Linked DNA regions of Homo sapiens. The protein of the gene in region 1 interacts with the protein of each later gene in a pairwise test. Each region holds a gene or a part of one and is shown in the gene's direction. Other genes may lie near its edges.

Region 1 (3,500 bases):
CCCACAGCACTCTGTCCAGGTGGCAGGCAGGGACAGGGCACCCACTGACGGCTGCTGGGCTGCGGCTCCTCCTCCTCGCACCCTCCCCAGTGCCTTACCTGCCCCCCAGGACAGAGCCTCCTCCCTTCTCTCTCTCCTCCCACCAGAGGGGCCGCAGCCCCTCCCTGCTGAGCCCGGTTGTTGCCACAGGTTGCCGCTCAGGCTACTGTGTGAGAGTATGAAGAGGCAGATCGTGTCCCGGGCCTTCTACGGCTGTGAGTGTGGGGCGCGCCGGGCTGTGGCGGGCTGGGGGCGGGCGGCCCTGGGTCCCAGCCTCCTGCTGCCCACCGCTGCCCACCGCAGGGCTGGCACACTGCCGCCACCTGTCCACGGTGCGGACCCACCTGTCGGCGCTGGTGCACCATAGCGTTATCCCACCTGACCGGCCCCCGGGGGCCTCCGCGGGCCTCACCAAGGACGTGTGGAGCAAGTATCAGAAGGACAAAAAGGTGCCAACCCTGGGGTTCCAGGGCCACAGGTCGAGGGGCTGGGGCGGGCAGGAGTGAGGGCTTCAGGGTAAAATGTGCCAGTGGGTGCGGTTGACAGGCCAGGGCCGATGCCACGGAGTGACCAGGGTCCCGGCAGAATCTCTTGCAGCTGGGCCTGGGGCTGACACGGGAAGGGGGCTGGACTGGGAAGCCGTCCTGCCTCCACATCGCCCTGTGACCCTGGACAAAGCTTTGCCTCTCTCCGGGCGCCATTTCCTGCCCCTTAAGGAAGGAGAGCAGAACGAGATCTCATCCCACTGTGAGCTGGGGCACGGGAGGACGTGGCCACCCCAAAGCAGGCCTTGCCTGGGCTTCAGCAGTCACTACAGGCCCCGCCCCAGCCCATTCTCCGTGGGATGGGGCTCACCCAGCTGGGCCACGGTGACTGTGGAGGCTGCACAGTCTTGACTCCCCGGGTCCCTCAGAACTACAAAGAGCTGGAGCTGCTGCGGCAAGTTTACTACGGAGGCATAGAGCACGAGATCCGCAAGGACGTCTGGCCCTTTCTGCTTGGCCACTACAAGTTCGGCATGAGCAAGAAGGAGATGGAGCAGGTGAGGGGAGCCTGTTCCCATGGGGCTGATGAGATGGGGAGCTGGGCCAGGGGACGCCAGGGAGGGGACCTTGGAAGCCTCAGCCCCTTCCCAGCCGGAAAGAAGCATGGCAGGGCAGCTCCACCGTCCTTACCCTGAGGCCCGTCTTGAGTCTGAGACTCAGGACCCAAGGTCCAGTGCAGGCCCAGCTCCTGAAGGGGAGGGCCTGGTGCACGCTTCCCCCATGGTCGTGGTGTGGTCTGAGTACAGGTGGACGCAGTGGTGGCAGCAAGGTACCAGCAGGTGTTGGCAGAGTGGAAGGCCTGCGAGGTGGTGGTGAGGCAGCGGGAGCGGGAGGCCCACCCAGCCACACGCACCAAGTTCTCCTCAGGCAGCAGCATCGACAGCCACGTGCAGCGCCTCATCCACCGAGACTCCACCATCAGCAACGATGTGAGCCAGACGGGACCTGGAGGGTTGGGGGTCTCGGGGGCCACCCGCGTTTTATGCACAGTGGTCCTGAGCACCAGCCTGACCTCTGGGAACTGGTGGGGCCCTGCGAGAAAGGCCTAAGGTGCCTGTGTCTCATTTTCTCCAACTGGAAATGGCTAACTGTGCCTCTGCTGCCTACTTCTCTGGGTATTGTAGGAATAAAGTGAGAGAGTGCATTGTGCTCAGTTTTAGCCAACTATAGGGAAAGATGGACTTACTGGGATTTAGGGAAGCCCTCCTCCTTGTAGAAAGACCTCAAAGCTAGCAACAGGCAGCGCTGGGTTCTAGTCCCAGATCCACTACTGACAAGCTGAATGTCTCTGGGCAAGCACTTCCCGTCTCTGGGTCTCAGTTTCCCCTCTCCACCCATATCCTCTGACTGCAGAGGCTTCCTGAGATCTGTGGGCCTGAGAATAGGGGAGCCCGTAGAGCAGCCCCATTGGTGTCGACTGGCGAGATCCTTCCTCCCCGCGATGTTGCCTGTCACTGTACAGAACTGACTATGGCAGGCTTGTTCGGAGCACGGGAGGGTAGCTCTTTCTGGCATCACTCCTGCCTTTTGAACAGCAAGTTCTAAACTGTGACTGCCTGGCCCAACCAACACTGATAAGTTTCAATTTTAAGGACGCTTTATTAATTTTTCTTTAAAATTGCCTCTTTAGATAATGTGTATTCTTGTTACTTTACTAAATCCTTACCAACATTAACAGAAAATGTAAGTTGAAGTAAGTTAAATATAACTGGCTGGGTGTGATGGCTCATGCCTGTAATTCCAACACTTTGGGAGGCAGAGGTGGGAGGATTGCTTCAGTTCAAGAGTTTGAGACCAGCCTGGGTAACATGGCGAAACCCTGTCTTTACAAAAAATGCAAACCTTTGCCGCATGTGTTGGGGTGCGCCTGTAGTCCCAGCTTCTCGGGAGGCTGAGGTGGGGGGACCACCTGAGCCATGGAGGTTGAGGCTGCAGTGAGCCGTGATACCACCACTGTACTCTAGCCTGGGCCATAGAGTGAGACACCCTGCCTCAGAAATAAAATAAAAAAAAAGAAATAGAACAAACAAGGCACATTGTCATTTCCCACGTGCTTTGTTCTTAATCCCCTATCCAGGAACACATTCTCCCTCTCTCTGGCTTTGGGTTTTGTAAAAATCTGTCTGTGCCAGTGCCCAGCTGCTGAGCTCATGGACAGCAGTAGCTCCTCGCTGGCGTATTAGATTGCCACAGAACCGTGGCCTTACCCAGCACTTCATGCTTCCTGCCCAAAGTAGAAACTACTTTTAGCATTGCTTTCCCTACGTGGTGAAAACAGAGAGAGAAAAATCCCAAACAGTCTCTGTATGTGTCTCTTCTTTTCCTCGTGCCTTGTCCATGGTGGTGGACTGTATCTAGGAGGCAGAATGTTTGCTTTTCCTTCCTACATCTCCCCACCTTGCCTGAGGGCTAATGGAACTGACTAGGTGCTTGCTACAGAACGTTCCTGTCTTGTCCTGCTGAACACTCAGTACTGAAAATAAGGCAAAACTTGTTTTTCCTAAAACCTCTAGGCTTCTCTCCACCCAGCCACACCAAAACACTAAGGCCATTCTCCCGGTCTCATGACTTCAGGCGTTTCTAGAATGAGACTGAGTTCAAACTGGCCATTGAGCGTTCAGCCCCCTGGCTCCCCTACTTCCCTTCAGTAGCCACAGGAAGACCTGGGGCTGTTCCTTCAAGCAGGGCTGAAGACGTGTCTTCATGTTTGGCCAGAGGCTTGTTTCTCTCCGCCTGGCTGGCTGGGTCAGAAGCTGGCTTGGTGCCCCGTGGCCACAGTGTTGGAGGCTGTGGTGGGAGAGGGGGTGTGAAGAGTTTTGCATTCCAGCTCCCTTCTGGCCCGAGGAGGCGGTGGGCTGCGGGAAGGTGCTGGAGTGCAGGTGGAGCCGCCCTGTGTTCACCCCCCAGGTGTTTATC
Region 2 (3,982 bases), on another chromosome or scaffold:
TGCTGATGCTGATGCTATAGTAACAGCATCTTTTCTATGTGTTCATCTTCCAAAAGCCTGTGACCCCAATATACTCTACACTCCTCAAAAGATTCTTGGAAAGAGACTCATATGCCTTAGGGACAAGGCAGCAGAAATGACACAAGTCCTGAATGAGCATCTCCTGTCTGGGGTGATGAGGGAAGGTGGGAGAACTGCTAGTGTCACCCAGGATCCACAAGGCCCATGGGGACCTCTGGTCCAGAAACGGCAACTTGCTATCCAGAGTTCAGGAAGTAGCTTGCAGCTTCTGTTGCCCAGGCTGGAGCACAGTAGCACAATCTCAACTCACTGCAGCCTCGACGTCCTGGGCTCAAGCAATCCTCCCACATCAGCCTCCCAAGTAGCTGGGACAAATGACCAAGGCTTGTCTTTGCTTTAAACCTGGCCTTGTGAGATGTCCCATGCAACTACCTAGTCTTTGGTAGGTGCACACCATCATGCCTGGCTAATTTTTGTATTTTTTGTAGAGACAGGGTTTCACCATGTTGGCCAGGCTGGTCTTGAACTCCTGACCTCAGGTGATCCACCCGCCTCGGCCTCCCAAAGTGTTGGGGTTACAGGTGTAAGACACCGCGCCAGGCTGCAGCTTCTTATACATGCACCTTGCTGAATTAGAAGTAGGAGCTCAATAGGGGAGGGAGCCTAATGAATCAAGGCTGTATTTCCAGGGAGCTTGAGACTTGATGTTAGGCTTACACACACGCACACACACACACACACACACGCCTTTCCAGTGGGCTGGCTGGGCCTCTTCTCCTCACTGCCAAGTTGCAAAGTTGTGTGGTCACCTCCCCCCCCCACACACACCAGCTTCCCGCCAGCCTGTGCCCTCAGCCCTCGCCTCCCTGAGCCAGGACAAAGCCCCGGCAGTGACTGGGAGGGGAACAGGAGGAGGGACAGAGGGATGGGAAAGCCTGCACAAAGGAATTCCTCACCCCAAGCCCCCTGACCGCCAGCGAGTAAAGAAGCAGATTTGCTCTCCCTCCCGCTTCCTCCCTCCCATCTTCCCACCCGGGCTGTGCCCAGGCCACAGAGCAGCTGCAGGCCTTGGGAGAGGACCCACACAGCCTCCTGTAGGTGGCAACAGTGCCACCTGTTTGACTCATAGGGCTGAACCGAGGACTGAAAAAGGGAGGAGGCAGACCACTCGGAGAGGAGCTGGGAAGCAGTGCAGAGAGGAGAGCGGAGCGGAGCTGCCGCTGAGCAAAGGTGTGAGGGTTCGGGAAGGCTGGGGGGCTACAGGTGGGAGCTGTGGAGCAGAGACCAGCTCCATCCCACTGGGATTGGGCCGGGGGATTGAATGGCACCCCTGTCAGCAACCCTACTTGGGGTTTTCAGGCTGCTCAGACCCTGATCCCATCCTACAGGCAGCTCCTGAAGGGAGGGGACTCTGGAAGGCAGTGTCTGGGGTGCAGGGGTAGGACCCCAGGGGAGGCAAGAGCTTAGAGCAGGCTATCAAACCAGCTCCAAGATGGGCAGAGGCAAGGGCTTCCCTTTGGGTTGGCTTTTTACCGGGAAGGGTCTCGTAGAGGGGAGGGGTTTCCTTCCCCCAGCTCCAGCTCCTCACCCCTACCCTAACCCTCCTTTCCCAAGGCAGCATAAAGAGGGCAGTTCAGAAGCAGCCACACCTTCCTGCTTACCGGACCCACCCACTGTGCACCCCTCTAAGACTCCATAGCCTCGGGAGAGCTCTGAGGACAAGAGGTCCTGTCCCTCAGCCCGCACGCACACATGCTCACACACTTTGGGTGTATCCAGGGGCTCCTTTACATACTCAAAGTCACCTAAAATCATATTGTACCGACAGCCAGTTGTGCTGTCGCGTGCAAATGCTGACACAAATCACATACCGTCTCGCGTAGAATCAGTCACGTACCCAGCCAAGTCTGGGGATCAGCTCAGTCAGCCAAACCCAGAAGCATAAGGTACAGGGGTCCCCTGCCCCAAGACAACCACACCCCGCATACACACCTTTGCCCTGCGTTTGTTGTACTTTCACCAAAGCTAACTTAGAGGGTGGGGCTCCTAAAGGCGAGTCTGGGCTTCTGGTTGGGGTTGGGGGATGACTGGGCAGGAAAGGGCAGGACTTGAGGGGAGGCTCTGTATTTTGAAAATCCAAAGATTCCTTTAGAAGACTGGGAGTGACCCAGGCAACATGTTCACCTCAAGTCTTTCTCTTTTTGGCAGTGCCCTTTGTCCCCTGAGAGGTGGACACAGAGAATCTTTCAGGGATTTGTGATCTGAATAATCTCTATAACCATAGCAACTGGCCAACTAGCTGGGCCTTCCTTAGCCCCAGGTCAGAACTGTAACCTTTGCTTCAGGTTACTCCTGCTTCCTGGGCTGGAAAGCAATTCAACATGGGGTTGCCTCCAGCTTGGCCAAACCTGCTTTAACTTGCTGAACTGAGTTTGTCCCACCCTGGGCAGTTTCTCTTGAGTTCTTACCCCCAGGGCAAGCACTCCATCCCCAGAGGTGTGTGCTGTTAAATGGGGAGGAGCTGGAGAGAGTGGATATGAATCCTGCCCGAAAAGAGGCTGGACCTCTTGGGTGTCCCACTGACTCTCCAGGTAACAAGATTAAAGGGAAACGAAGGCTCTGGAGACTGTCTCCCATTGCCAGGCTTGCAGCTGGGGCTGCTCGCCTCATCCACTCTGGCACTCTGGGCCTGCCCCGTGACCTCCGTTGCTGAGCAGCGGCCCAGGCCTCTGCCTCTCCCCCGGGCTCCTCAGATACACTAGGAGGGAGACTGGGATCTGCCCTCTGCCAGGGTCCCTGATGGTCGAGTGTCCCTTCCCCCAGGCCTTCACCATGGCCGAGTCCCCCGGCTGCTGCTCCGTCTGGGCCCGCTGCCTCCACTGCCTGTATAGCTGCCACTGGAGGAAATGCCCCAGAGAGAGGATGCAAACCAGCAAGGTGGAGTAGGGATGGAGGGGGGAGGCTGGAAGTCAGAAGGCAGAGGCTCACTGGAGGGGATAAGGAGGCCAATTGTGCTCATAGACAGCTTGGGGGAAGGGGCTCTCTCTCCCAGGAAGAAAATCTCCCTCAAATATGGAAAGAGCTGCCCCCCGAGCAGAGCAGCCCAACACGGGGCAGGCAGCTCCCTTTAGCTGCCACCCGTTGGGGACTCTGAGTTTGAAGTAGGTATTGGTTGTGAGTTTCTCTCCTGCCCCTTTGCAGTGCGACTGTATCTGGTTTGGCCTGCTCTTCCTCACCTTCCTCCTTTCCCTGAGCTGGCTGTACATCGGGCTCGTCCTTCTCAATGACCTGCACAACTTCAATGAGTGTGTCATGGATTCCCCCTGCTTCCCCAGCATACCTGTCAACCTGCTCCCCACCCTGGGACCCGGGGGTGGCCCACTGTCAGTCATCCCCCAGCCCTGCCCAGCTGCTCAAACCCAGCTCTGCTGCTACCCAATCTCCTTAGAAAATCCCTCCACAAAATCTCCTCAATCCTTGGAGCCCCTGGCCACGAGGGGCTTTCTCCTCACTCCCTTCTAGTCTTCCTGGATCCACCCACCCCACCTCCCCTCAGGCCACTATTGACACCCCTTCCCCCACTTGGACACCTCCCTCTCCCCTCCCACAGATTCCTCTTCCGCCGCTGGGGACACTGGATGGACTGGTCCCTGGCATTCCTGCTGGTCATCTCTCTACTGGTCACATATGCATCCTTGCTATTGGTGGGTCCGGAGGCCGCTGGCCTAACCCCACCTCAGCCTTCCTTCCTGCTTAGTTTTAGCTCCCTATTCTCATCCTGGCCACTGAGGGAGGGGGCTAATTCTTGGGTAGGAGGGAAGTACCAGCCTGGGAAGCCCACCTCAGTAACCTTGCTCCCCTCTTGGCACCCCATAAGTCCCACTGCTCTCTTCCTCTAGGTCCTGGCCCTGCTCCTGCGGCTTTGTAGACAGCCCCTGCATCTGCACAGCCTCCACAAGGT

Evidence for each region.
Region 2: the proteins of SGSM2 (region 1) and GDPD2 interact in a two-hybrid assay, tested with the Homo sapiens proteins (one large-scale study listed by BioGRID and IntAct).

Annotation. Positions count from the first base shown.
Region 1 is NC_000017.11:2,372,001-2,375,500, forward strand, and holds part of SGSM2 (small G protein signaling modulator 2), read left to right. Parts: intron 1-189; coding exon 190-254; intron 255-342; coding exon 343-488; intron 489-952; coding exon 953-1,081; intron 1,082-1,330; coding exon 1,331-1,513; intron 1,514-3,491; coding exon 3,492-3,500.
Region 2 is NC_000023.11:70,422,132-70,426,113, forward strand, and holds the start of GDPD2 (glycerophosphoinositol inositolphosphodiesterase GDPD2), read left to right. Parts: upstream 1-1,182; 5' UTR 1,183-1,251; intron 1,252-2,844; 5' UTR 2,845-2,853; coding exon 2,854-2,958; intron 2,959-3,222; coding exon 3,223-3,326; intron 3,327-3,631; coding exon 3,632-3,725; intron 3,726-3,920; coding exon 3,921-3,980; intron 3,981-3,982. UniProt on the Homo sapiens protein: Has glycerophosphoinositol inositolphosphodiesterase activity and specifically hydrolyzes glycerophosphoinositol, with no activity for other substrates such as glycerophosphoinositol 4-phosphate, glycerophosphocholine, glycerophosphoethanolamine, and glycerophosphoserine.